Homo sapiens: one gene and its partner. The protein of the gene in region 1 interacts with the protein of each later gene in a pairwise test. Each region holds a gene or a part of one and is shown in the gene's direction. Other genes may lie near its edges.

Region 1 (7,169 bases):
CCTTCTGTAATCCATCCCTTGAGTTTTTTTTTTTTAAATGAATTTTTAATTTAAAAAATGTATGTATTGGAATAGAGACGGGGTCTCACTGTGTTGCTGAGGCTGGTCTCGAATTCCTGTGATCCTCCTGCTTCATCCTCTCACAGTGCTGGGATTACAGGTGTAGGCCGCTGTGCCCAGCTGAGTTCACTTTTTAACATCTGTCTGAGGCGGTCATGAGACACTGTAGTGGAGCCATCTGGGTTGCATAATGAATGTGCTGTGAGATGCACAAGTAGATAGTTCTTTCCAGAAGCTTTGCTGTGAGAGAGAAACAGCAGTTACGGAGAAGGCTCCTGAGCGGGTCTATAGTTATTTATGTTGGAACAATTCTCAGGTGATATGTGTGTGTGATCTGAATTCTTCAATCACTTGTTACCCATAATACTGTAAGTTTCCCAGCAAGTTCTTTCCAGTTGGATTTGGTAGTTTGAAAAGAGGTCCTACTGATGGCTTCCGAAACATAATTTTAATTTTAGACTAGAATTTGCTGCCTCCTGAATATAGATTGTGTCTTTTGCCTTTTCAATAAATGGTAGTAGCTAGAATTCGGTTATTTAACTACTAACACAATCTTTCTTCTTAAAGAATGGATGACAAAGGAGAAGTGAAGTGCATTAAGTTTTCCTTAGAAAATAAGATATTGGCTGTTCAGAGGACCTCAAAGACTGTGGTAAGACTTATCTTTAAAATACAGCATTAAAGGGCATTAGAAATACATTTGGAAGAGAAGGAATCGCAAATTTTCAGTGTTAAAGGAAACTTTTATTATCTTACTGTTGTGAAAGGTATAGTTATGTTGCATTGTATTAGAGCCTTCAAAAACGAAAAAGACATTTGAGTGGGTTAAAAAAATGACCTTAGTTTGATTTTTAAATTAAATTAAAAATTTTTTTTTGAGCCAGTCTTCCTTTGTTGCCCAGGCTGGAGTGCAGTGATGTGATCTCGGCTCACTGCAGCCTCGATCTCTCAGGCTCAAGTGATTCTCTCGCCTCAGTCTCCCTTAAAAATTGTTAAAAAATAATTTGGAACTTCATGTGTCTTTTGTATTGCTTGATAGCAGCATAGAATATGTGAGGTATTTTTGGCTACTTTGTGAATTAGCCTTTTCATCTCTCATTTCTGAGTGCTAGATCTGATAGGAGCAGATATTCCAAGTTGAAGCAGCCTACAGGCACTTTAGCCCGTGTAAATGTTCACCATTGCCGTTTGTAGAGTAGAGGGAAGGCTGTTAGAAACAGGCAGAATCCTCTGTTAGTTTCTTCCATCAGTTTTAAGTGTTAAAGTCTTGGGGAAGCCTCTTAGTGCAGCAACACATTTCTCTGACATCAGCTGCTTGAGGAATGAATTTTTGAAAGGAGTTACTAAACTGTAACTGAATATTTGTATTAACTTAAAAAAAATTGAATCGTAAGCCTGCTGCTGTTGAGACAGATGATCCGAATTGGTCTTTTTATCTTTCCTGTGTTTTGGTTGTCTTCAGTTATTTTCTGGTCACTTTTTAAGTTAATATTTATTTTTCTTGTCTTGTAGTATGCCAACGTAGGTTGGCAGTATGCTGCCTAATCCAAATTTGTGTGTGTCTGTGTGTTTTTCCTTTCAGGATTTTTGTAATTTTATCCCTGATAATTCCCAGCTGGAATACACACAGGAGTGCAAGGTATGACCCCAGGCCCTTTCTCAGCTGCTGGTGTCAGTGGTGTTGAGCTGGGTTATGTAGTGGAGAGCGGGGCATTGGGGTCGCAGGGAGCACAGACTTGAAGTCAGACTGTCCCTCATGTTGATTCCCAAACTGGAGTCAGGCGGGGTGTTTGCTTTGTGACACTGAACAGTTTTCTAAGTTTGAAAGCTTGTTCCTTTGGAGGGGGAGGGTTCAATGGATGATGCGTGGTGAACACCCAGTAGTGCTAGCCCTTGGGGCTGTCGTCTGTCTTGCCCTTTTTCTCCTCACTGGGCTGACAGCACATCTGGGTCTGGGCCCTGGGATGCCTCACAGCCACCTGGAGTGGAGGTTTCTGGTGAGGAGTTTCTTTTTCTGTTTCCTGAAGTTTCCTTTCCTCAATTTGTTGTCTTTGTCTTGTCCTTACTCTTTCTTTCTTCTCCTAGGTGTTGATTCTAATCCACATTAATGAGATTTGCTGGGTGTAGTAAACTAGGCTAGAGGGAGCTGAGCTAAAATTGGCAGTGTGGCACCTTGGGCGCTGACAGAAGCTGCTAGTGGTTGGGGTAGGGCTTTCTGCATTTTTGTGACTGTTTTGCTCAATGGAGTTCAGGGCGGACTCTTTGGTGAGGAGAGGTGCATCCCCACCACTGTCCTGCCTGCCCTGCAGTGGCCCCGTGTGAAGAGACCCTCAGCCCGGCCCTTCTCAAACCTGTCTGCCCTCAAGCGAGTCGGGTGTGTGTCTCAGGGTCCTCAACCCATTTTAGTCAACACTCACTAAAGACCCTTAGGCCTTTGTACATTTTTAATAACCATTTTTATAACGTGGGTGACTAAGAATGTTGGCAGTATGGTGATTCCTGCAGGTAGAAGCTGCTGTCTGTGAGCTCTGGTCAGTTACTTTTCTACAAAACACAGACTTCTCCTGTTCTGTTTAGTAGAAGGAATTAGGATTCAGGTTCTTGAATGAAGAGTTATGGGCAAAAATCAGGGAACATTGTATTTAAAAGAAAATTTGTTTTGTTAATTAGTAAACATTCCGGGGAACGTTCATTAAAGAATGACAAACTGCAGAGTTTGTGAAGCTTTTGAAGAGAGTTATATGTGTTTTTTCTTATTAATTAAAAATATTTTTAAAAAATTTTTCTTAGACTAAGAATGCCAACATTCTAGGATTCTGCTGGACTAGTTCAACTGAAATTGTCTTCATAACAGATCAAGGAATCGAATTTTACCAGGTATTATGTTTATCATTTATGTTTGTTGGTTAAAGTTCAGTGATAGCATTCTGGCAGCCTTTTGAATTCAGTACTGAATATATATATATATATTTTAAACATTTTCTAGAGATGGAGTCTTGCTCTGTTGCCCAGGCTGCAGTGCAGTGGCACCATCATGGCTCACTGTAATCTCAAACTCCTGGGCTCAAGCAATCCTCCTGCCTCAGTCTCCTGAGTAGGTGGGACTACAGGCATGTACCACCATGCCTGGCTAATTTTTCTTTTTATTATTTTATTTTATTTTATTTTATTTTTGAGACGGAGTTTCGCTCTTGTTGCCCAGGCTGGTGGAGTGCAATGGCGCGATCTCGGCTCACCGCAACCTCCGCCTCCCAGGTTCAAGCGATTCTCCTGTCTCAGCCTCGTGAGTAGATGGGATTACAGGCATGCATCACCATGCCCGGGTAATTTTGTATTTTTAGTAGAGACGGGATTTCTCCATGTTGAGACTGGTCTCGAACTCCCGACCTCAGGTGATCCACCCGCCTCGGCCTCCCAAAGTGCTGGGATTACAGGCGTGAGCCACTGCGCCCGGCCCTGGCTAATTTTTAAACTTTTTTGTAGAGACGAAGTCTTGCTATGTTGCCCAGGCTGGTGTCAAACTCCTAACCTCAACTCCTGCCTTGGCCACTCAGCTTTAGTCTCTTGCTGGGGATTTTATTCTTTTTTTTTTTTTTTATAATTGCAAGTAATAAATTAAAAAAAAAAAAAAGAAAAGAAAAAGGGCTTGGTGGCCCATGCCTGTAATTCCAGCTCTTTGGAAGGCCAAGGTGGGTGGATGGCTTGAGTCCAGGAGTCTGAGACCAGCCAGGCCAACATGATGAAATCCCATCTCTATAAAAAATACAAAATGTTAGTCAGGCATGGTGGTGTGCGCCTGTAGTCCCAGCTACTTGGGAGGCTGAAGTGGGAGGATTGCTTGAGCCTGGGAGGCAGGAGGTTGCAGTGAGCCAAGATCACAGCACTGCACTCCAGCCTGGATGACAGTGAGACCCCATCTCAAAAAAAAAAACAAAAACACAACAACATTAAAAAGTGGGCAAAGGCCAGGTACAGTGGCTCACACCTGTAATCCCAGCACTTTGGGAGACCGAGGTGGGCAGATCACCTGAGGTCAGGAGTTCGAGACCAGCATGGCCAACATGACGAAACCCTGTCTCTATTAAAAATACAAAAATTAGCCAGGTTGGTGGCAGGCACCTGTAATCCCAGCTACTAGGGAGGCTGAGGCCAGGGAATTGCTTGAACCTGGAAGGCGGAGCTTGTAGTGAGCTGAGATGGTGCCACTGCACTCCAGCCTGGGCAACAGAGCGAGACTCCGTCTCAAAAAAAAAAAAGTGGGCAAAGGACATGAGCAGACACTTTTTAAAAGAAGACACACATGCGACCAACAAACATAAAAGAGCTCAACATCACTGATCATTAGAGAAATGCAAATCAAAACCACAATGAGAAACTATCTCACACTAGTCAGCATAGCCATTATAAAAAAGTCAAAGAATAACAGATACTGGCAAGGTTGTGGAGAAAAGGGAACCCTTATGCACTATTGCTGGGAGTGTAAATTAGTTCAACCTTTGTGGAAAACAGTATGGCGATTCCTCAGAGAGCTAAAAGCAGAACTACTGTTTGACCTAGCAGCCCCATTACTGGGTGTAATATGCAGAGGAATATAAATTATTCTACCATAAAGGCACATGCACGTGAATGTTCATTGCAGCACTGTTCACAATGGCAAAGACATGGAATCATCCTAAATGCCCATCAGTGACAGATTGGATAAAGAAAATGTGGTACATATATACCATGGAATACTATGCAGCCATAAAAATGAACAAGATCATGTCTTTTGTGGGAACATGGATGGAGCTGGAGGCCATCATCCTTAGCAAACTAACACAGGAACAGAAAACCAAATACCACATGATCTCACTTCTAAGTGGGAGCTAAATGTAAGTTATGAATGCAAAGAAGGAAACAACAGACACGGGGGGCTACTTGAGCAGGGGAGGGTGGGAGGAGGGAGAGGAGCAGAAAAGATAACTATTGGGTACTGGACTTAATACCTGGGTGATGAAATAATCTGTACCACAAACCCCGTGACATGAGTTTACGTATGTAACAAACCTTCACATCTATCCCTGAACCTAAAAGTTAAAACAAAAAACATTCAAACATTGCAAGATATGTAATATGGAAAGCAAATGTTCCCTATAATCCCGATAAATAATTATTATGAACAGTTTGGTGCATATTCCTCTATTTTTAAAAATAAATACAAACTTCTTTTTAACAAAAAGGGGAATGTTGTATATAAACTTTTGCAGCTAGCTTTTTTTTTTTTTGTCCAAAGTGTATCTTGGACATCTTTCTATATTTTATTCTGACTGGGTAGTATTCCACTGTATGGATGGACTGCAGTTTAAAAATTTTCTTGTTATTGGACATTGGCTGGTTTTCCATTTTTTTGTGATTACAAATAACCCTTCAGTAACATGCTTGTACACACTTCTTTATATTAGAGGGAGAGTTGCAGTATAGGTACGAACATCTGAAAAGCTGAACCAGTATCGCCAAATTTCTTCTAGACATGTGTATTTTCACTAGCAATATAGGAACTTCTGCTTTTCATACCTTTAGGAGGACTGGATATTATCAGTCTATAGACATTTGCCAACCTGAGAGGTAGAAAGACTTTTTTTTTTTTTTTTTTTTCTGAGACAGAGTCTCACTCCGTCGCCCAGGCTGGAGTGCAATGGTGCGATCTCGGCTCACGGCAACCTCCACCTCCTGGGTTCAAGCAATTCTCCTGCCTCAGCCTCCCAAGTAGCTGGGTCTACAGGCGCCCAGCACCACGCCTGGCTAATTTTTGTATTTTTAGAAGAGGTGGGGTTTCACCATGTTGGCCAGGCTGGTCTTGAACCCCTGGCCTCAAATAATCCACCTATCTCGGCCCCCTAAAGTGCTGGGATTACAGGCGTGAGCCACCATGCCTGGCCGAAAGACATTTTAATTTGCATTTTACATTACTAGGGAAGTAAGCATCTTTTCATTTGTATATTGTCCATTTGTATTTTGTTAACTTCCTCTTAAAATTTTTTTATTTTGTAATAATTATTTTGAGACAGGATCTCTGTCACCCAGGCTGGAGTACAGTGGCACAATCACGGCTCACTGCAGCCTCGACCTCCTAGCCTCACGTAGTCCTCCCACCTCAGCTTCCTGAGTAGCTGGAACTACAGGTGTGTGCCAGCACGCCCAACTTAATTTTTTTTTCCTTTTTTTTTTTTTGTAGAGATGAGGTCTTGCTGTGTTGCCTAGACTGGTCTTGAACTCCTAGGTTCAAGCCATTCTTCTGCCTTGGCCTCCCAGAGTGCTGGGATTTATGGGCATGAGCCACTGTGTGTGGTCAAAAATATTTTTTTTACTGTGGTAAAAAAACATACAACATTTATTATCTTAACTGTTTTTAAGTGTTCAGTTCAGTAGTGTTAAGTATATTCATTCACATTGTTATGAAATAGCTCCAGAACTTTTTTCATCTTGTGAAACCAAAACTATCCAGTAAACAACTCCCCTTATCCCTTCCCTGCAGCCCCAGCAATCTCTATTTTACTTTCTGTTTCTATGAATTTGACTCCTTTTTTTTTAAGATGGAGTCTTGCTCTGTTGCCCAGGCTGGAGTGCAGTGGCGTGATCTCAGCTCACTGCAACCTCTGTCTCCTGGGTTCAGGCGATTCTCCTGTCTCAGCTTCCTGAATAGCTGGGATTACAGGTGTGCGCCACCACGCCTGGCTAATTTTTGTATTTTTGGTAGAGATGGGATTTCACCATGTTGGCCAAGCTGGTCTTGAACTCCTGACTTCAGGTGATCCACTCACCTCAGCCTCCCAAAGTGCTGGGATTACAGGCGTGAGCCACTGTGTCCGGCCGAATTTGATTACCTTTTATACTTCATATAAGTGAAATTATACAGTATTTGTCCCTTTGTGACTGGCTTATTTCATCTACCATAATTTCCTACAGGTTCCCCCATGCCATAGCATGTGATAGGGTTTCCTTTTTAAGACTGATAATACCGCACTGAGCGTATACACCACATTTTGCTTATCCATTCATCTGTTGAGGGACATTTGGGTTGCTTCTGCCTCTTGGCCATTGTGAATAGTGCTGCTGTCAATACAGGTATG
Region 2 (5,628 bases), on another chromosome or scaffold:
AGAGTTTTGCTTTATCTCCCAGTATGGAGTGCAGTGGCACAATCTTGGCTCGCTGCAACCTTAGCCTCCCAGGTGTAAGCGATTCTCATGCCTCAGTCTCCCTAGTAGCTGGCATTACAGGTGCGTGCCACCACGCCCAGCTAATTTTTGTATTTTTAGCAGAGACGGGGTTTCACCTGTTGGCCAGGCTGGTCTTGAACTCCTGACCTCAAATGATCCACTCACCTTGGCTTCCCAAAGTGTTGGCATTACAGGCGTGAGCCACCGCACCTGGCCTATCATACCTCATTTTATTAATAAGAAAACAGAAGCCCAGAGAAGTTAAAAATTTGCTGAAGTTCTCACAGCTATTCTGACCTCATCAGTCTGACTCTAGAGCCCATTCTAGAGACACTATACCAAATAGTCTAACCAAAATCTTTTTTTCCTCTTCAAATACTAGTAGGATTGAATAAAACTTTGTTCTCTATTTTTTGTTATCTCAATAAACCTCCAGAGGCTTAAAGATATTATGGCAATTGAAGATATTTTTATTTTAAAATATTCTTTATTGTTATTGTTTCTGATTACAAAGGTAATAATCATTCATTGCAGAAAATTTAACTTCTGCAACGAGCAGAAAATAAAAAGCACCATAAATAAAGCACCCAGAGATGATGGGAACATTTTAGTGTATTTCCATATATTTTTTAAATGTGCACAGTTTTTATTCCAAAACATACCTTTTTACTAACTTAATAAAAAGTAAAATTTTCCATGATGTTCGGTGTTCTTCCAACATTCTTTATGAAGTGGCTACATATTTTCCATTAATTGCATATGCCATTTCTTTAGTCAGTTACCAAATCATGGACCTTCAGAGTATTTCCTATTTTTTGCAATTTAAATAATGTTATAATGAATATCCATATTTGTACATGTATAATTATTTCTTAGGATATGGAATTGCTACATCAGAGGGTATACACATTTATGTTTAAGGATTTTTATACTTATTGCCAATTGCATTCTAGGAGGATTGCACAGATTTTTATTTCTATTACCACTGTAGAAGAATGCCCACTTAGTTTCCTTAAATCTAAAAATAAAATCCCATCGCCTGTGTATCTAAATGAATACTCACTCCATTTGGGTTGTGTCCAGGCATTGCACAATATCTAACTTGAGAACAGGCTCTGTTCACTAACACTGGATAGCCCTAGTCTATGTATTTTAGGACTAATATTTTCTGTATCCATTTAAATAAAAATAAGTAGGTAAAGAGTAGTAACAAGTGGCAAAGAATTAGAAGATTATCTCGTTCTTAGGATAAGGCTGACTGAGCAGCAGTAACATAAAGCAAGAGCTGAAGTGGCAGAAGAAGTAGAAAAACACAGGAGTAGTTTTTCTTCTGAACCACCTGTAGAGTTTGGCTGGAGACTCAACTGCTGTCAACTGAGCAAGCTGTAGCAAAACCAAAAATCACATCAAAACAGAAACCTCTGTCAAATATGTGTGGAAAAATCCTGACTTTTTCCCCACAGTAGTCCTCATGATTTAGAAGTCAGTCTTCTCTCTCTCGCCCTCTCAAATTAGCAAAGAAGGAAACCTCCCAGGAGATGAGAGATCAGGCAGACAAACAGGGTTGGTTCTGGCAAGAGTTGGAAATGTACTAGCAAGAAAGCAAGAAAAAGAATCCGGAGTAAGCCCCAAACTATTTAGCCTATTTCCTCAGTCAGTGTTGTCTCTCTGGCATCAAACAGTTAACAATCACGTAGACACACGGGCGCCATTGGGGACCCCAGGGGCTCAGAAATAAATATAAGAGGTCTGCCCTACAGTGAGGGCAGGATAGCTGAGTCACTCACCAAATTCAGTGCTCCCTGTTCTGTAGACAAAGTTCTCTAAAGGATGTTAAAGGTTAAACATCTCTCACTTTCTCTGTTAATTAAAAACAAGGACAAGGAAGCAGGGAGGGAGGTCACTTGTTAAGAAAGGGCCTTGAGGGGCTGTAATTAGTTAGCCCTGGTTGTGGCAACTTCCATGACTCCCAGAATAAAAGTCCCAGATTGGTAAAGACCCCAGGAAAAAAAAAAGCACTGAAGAAGAGGCAAGAGGGTCTCTGGATCCAAGAATATTCCATCATTTGACAGATTTCCCTCACCCTCTGCTGGGATTAGCCTGTTAGACAATCCCAGAATAGCTCTCAAGCCAGATACATCCCTGGCATGTAGTGCCTGGTTGCCTGAGGCTGTATTTTGGGTCTGGTTATGTCAGTTGTACTACTCCACCTTCCAGAACCATCCATGTGGGAGAGGTGTGGTACCCTTGACTAATGTTTTGGGACTGAACCTGGCTCAGGGTGAATCTTTGTTAGAGGGAGGTAGGGGAAGCTCATCAGAATGTTAAGGAGACCACAGAGCAAATGATGATGGAGGGAAGGCAGAGGCCAGGGCTCTTGCACATGGGTGATCTGTTTTTCCTATTACAGGAGCTGCCCATCAACTTTCCAGAAGAAAAAGAAAACAGGTAACTTTGGGGCTGGGGGAGGGAATCTGGGGGAGGCAAATTAGAGAAGACAATAGAACTCCAATCTTTGGAAAGGGCAGAAGGGTAGAAAAGGAATGAAAGGATAAAGGGAGACAGCACACCAAAGAGAATCCAGGTTGCTGCATTCAAGACTAGTTCTGAACCTCTGGATCTTATCCTTTCCATTATTTCAGAGTGGCAGGGTTGGTTGTTCATTCTTTCATTCATCTAGCAAATATTTACTCAGCACTTACATTCTACGTCAGGACCTGTGTGGGTCCCAAGGAGGCAGAGAGGCACAAGAGGAAAGACACATGATCTCAGCCCTGGAAGAGCTGAAAATCAAATTTAAGAGATAAATTCATATAAACAAACAGTTGTAATATCATCACTGGTGCTGTAATAGATGTGTACTCATGCTGTGGGAGAATTGAGAGAAGACACTGATGTCGAAATGTCAAAGAAATAATAGCAAAGGGCCAGGCGTAGTGCCTCACGTCTGTAATCCCAGCACTTTGGGAGGCCAAGGTGGGGCGGATCACTTGAGATCAGGAGTTTGGGACCAGCCTGGTCAACATGGTGAAACCCCATCTCTACTAAAAAGAGAAAAACTAGCTGGGCATAGTGGTATGCGCCTGTAGTACCAGCTACTTGGGAGGCCAAGGCACGAGAATTGCTTGAACCCAGGAGATGGAGGTTGCAGTGAGTCGAGATCGCGCCACTGCACTCCAGCCTAGGCAAGAGTGAGACTCTGTCTCTAAATAAATAAATAAAAGCAAAGTTCACAAGTCAGCAGAGGAGGGAGAAGGTGTTTTAGGCAGATAAATCAGCTCATGAAAAAAAAAAAAAGAGACTGACCTGATTCAAAGTGGCTGATTGGTATAGCTGAGCACTTCCCACCTTGCATTGTAAGTGTGTTTACTTATTTTTATTTATTTGTCTCCCCTAGCAGGCTGTAAGCCCCCTGAGGTAGAGGAAACAGCTTACTCATCCTTCTACCCCCAGAACATGGCACAGAGCCTGGCACACAATGGGTTCTCTTGTTGAACTTGTTAGGGGCTAGTGAAAAATGAGGATGGAAGATATTATGGCCAGATTGTGAAAGGGCCAGATTGTAAACCCTGCTAAGGAGTTTGGATTTAGCACTAGTAGACATGAAAGAAGTGAGAATGGAGGCAGGGGGATTAGACAGAAGCCTGCCGTTAATAGTTTAATAGTGATTTGAAGAAGGCAATCTCAGTAGAGACAGGGAAGAGAGAATAAACTTAAGTTGGATTTCTTCCCCTCAGGAAGCCAAACAAGACGGACACTGAAGCCGCAGCCACAACAGCTGCAGCAGAATCTCCCAAAGGTAATGACAGGTCTCTGTCCCCTCTCTGGGGCTGCTCGGACATGGGATCCCAGTAGTCAGCTCTTTTGCACTGCAACAGACACATTTCAGTCACCTGTAGAATTTGCTGGCTCTGTCTGTCCTCCTCTGTCTGTCCTTTGCTCAAAGGAGCAAAGCGAAGGGACATCAGTTGACCTGCCCCTGCATTGGAGGTGAGGGGCAAAACCAAGCCATGAATCTCCCTTAATGCTATCCATTCCTCGCAGGGCCATGAAACAACAGGACATACGTATGAACGGGTGTTACAGCAGCAAGGGTCTCAAGAGAGGAGTCCAGGCCTCATGTCGGAAGACAGCAACTTACATTATGCTGACATTCAAGTGTGCAGCCGTCCCCATGCCCGGGAAGTGAAACACGTGCATTTAGAAAACGCTACAGAGTATGCGACCCTTCGCTTCCCCCAGGCCACACCTCGCTATGACAGCAAGAACGGGACCCTGGTGTGAGCGCTTGGGAGGAAGGCCCAGTCCATCGTTAACCACTACACCTGTGGGGGAGAACCTACTGCTTTGGGGAATTGGGTGGCAACCCAGGGATGTTGTCCACGTTTTAAGCTTAAAGAACTCCAAAGCCCCTGGAATTGTGGGCGTCCCATTTTCTCCCCTGGCCTCTTACTTGCCACTGTTAGGTTGGAGTTAATAGTTGGTTTAGCTATGGGTGGATAGCTAAACTTAGCTATCCACATGAGGTTAGGTGGAGTGTGCAGGGAGGTAGGTCTTCGACCCCACCATTGTTGCTCCTGCTCTTGCAAAGTGCAGAAAGAGCAGGTAAAAAGTTAGCCCATAAGCACGTGGGCTGATCTTGTTGGACTTTAATTAATGGTATCCTTTTTCACACACCTTAAACTCCAAAGCTGAAGGGGAGGTGCTCCGGAAAAGCATTCTGAGCTTTTACATTCAGACACTAGGGCTGGCTTGGGCCATTTCCTCAGTGGCTGAGTCAGGTTCCAGACCTTAACAGACAAATGGGGGAAGGGGGCTGAGGCGTGGAGGAAACGCTTTCAGGACCTCAAGTCAGTGATAACCGACAGCACAGTGAGGCCTGGAAACTTCCCTCGGAGGGACTGTTGGCTCTCGCAGGTGCGGGGCCGCTAGGATCAATAAACGGCCTGAGAAACATGCCTGGCGCGTTTTCTGGGGCGGGGCCCCGAAGCTCCTTGCGAGGACAGCGGATCCCGCCCAGTTTTAAGGGCGGTTCGAAAGTCCAGCCAGTAGACAGGCCTTCCGGCCCCACCCCCAGGCCGCGGCTGGAGGCGGAGCTGGAGGGGGGTGGGGTTTAGGAGAAAGGGGGCGGGCTACCATTGGCAGAGGGCGCAGTTCCTGGGGCGGTGTGTCCATGCCGTGATTGGTTGTTTGTCGGATGCTCCTGGTGAGGCGGATCCGGAACGGCAGTTGGGGGGGATCTGGGTCCAGGGGGCGCGGTCTGGGCCTGCAGGAGGCGGGATCCGGCGGGCCAGAGGCGGGACCAAGGCCGGCAGGGGCTGGCTCTGGCTGGCTGGAGTCGGGCGGGGCTTGTGGCCGGCCCCCGCATCACCATGGCAGCGGGAAACCGCGGCAAAGCCAGAGCACTGGCAGGCCGAGCTCAGGAGGGCTGGGGACAGAGATGCTGAACCAGACGGACCCATCATTTAAGAGGTAGGTGCTGAAAGGTGGCGAGTAACAAAAATATTACCCAAGTTGATCATCCACATCGAAACTGGGGACACGCGGAGGTGGCGAGGATGAAGTGGG

Evidence for each region.
Region 2: the proteins of RMC1 (region 1) and C11orf52 interact in binary tests that used the Homo sapiens proteins (3 or more experiments, as listed by UniProt).

What each region holds. Positions count from the first base shown.
Region 1 is NC_000018.10:23,506,343-23,513,511, forward strand, and holds part of RMC1 (regulator of MON1-CCZ1 complex), read left to right. Parts: exon of another isoform or gene 1-193; coding exon of another isoform or gene 194-300; intron 301-627; coding exon 628-712; intron 713-1,642; coding exon 1,643-1,699; intron 1,700-2,850; coding exon 2,851-2,937; intron 2,938-7,169. Other genes in the region: NPC1 (NPC intracellular cholesterol transporter 1), read right to left, coding at 194-300. UniProt on the Homo sapiens protein: Component of the CCZ1-MON1 RAB7A guanine exchange factor (GEF). Acts as a positive regulator of CCZ1-MON1A/B function necessary for endosomal/autophagic flux and efficient RAB7A localization.
Region 2 is NC_000011.10:111,921,856-111,927,483, forward strand, and holds the end of C11orf52 (uncharacterized protein C11orf52), read left to right. Parts: intron 1-1,847; exon of another isoform or gene 1,848-1,885; intron 1,886-2,470; coding exon 2,471-2,508; intron 2,509-3,797; coding exon 3,798-3,859; intron 3,860-4,104; coding exon 4,105-4,344; 3' UTR 4,345-5,016; downstream 5,017-5,628.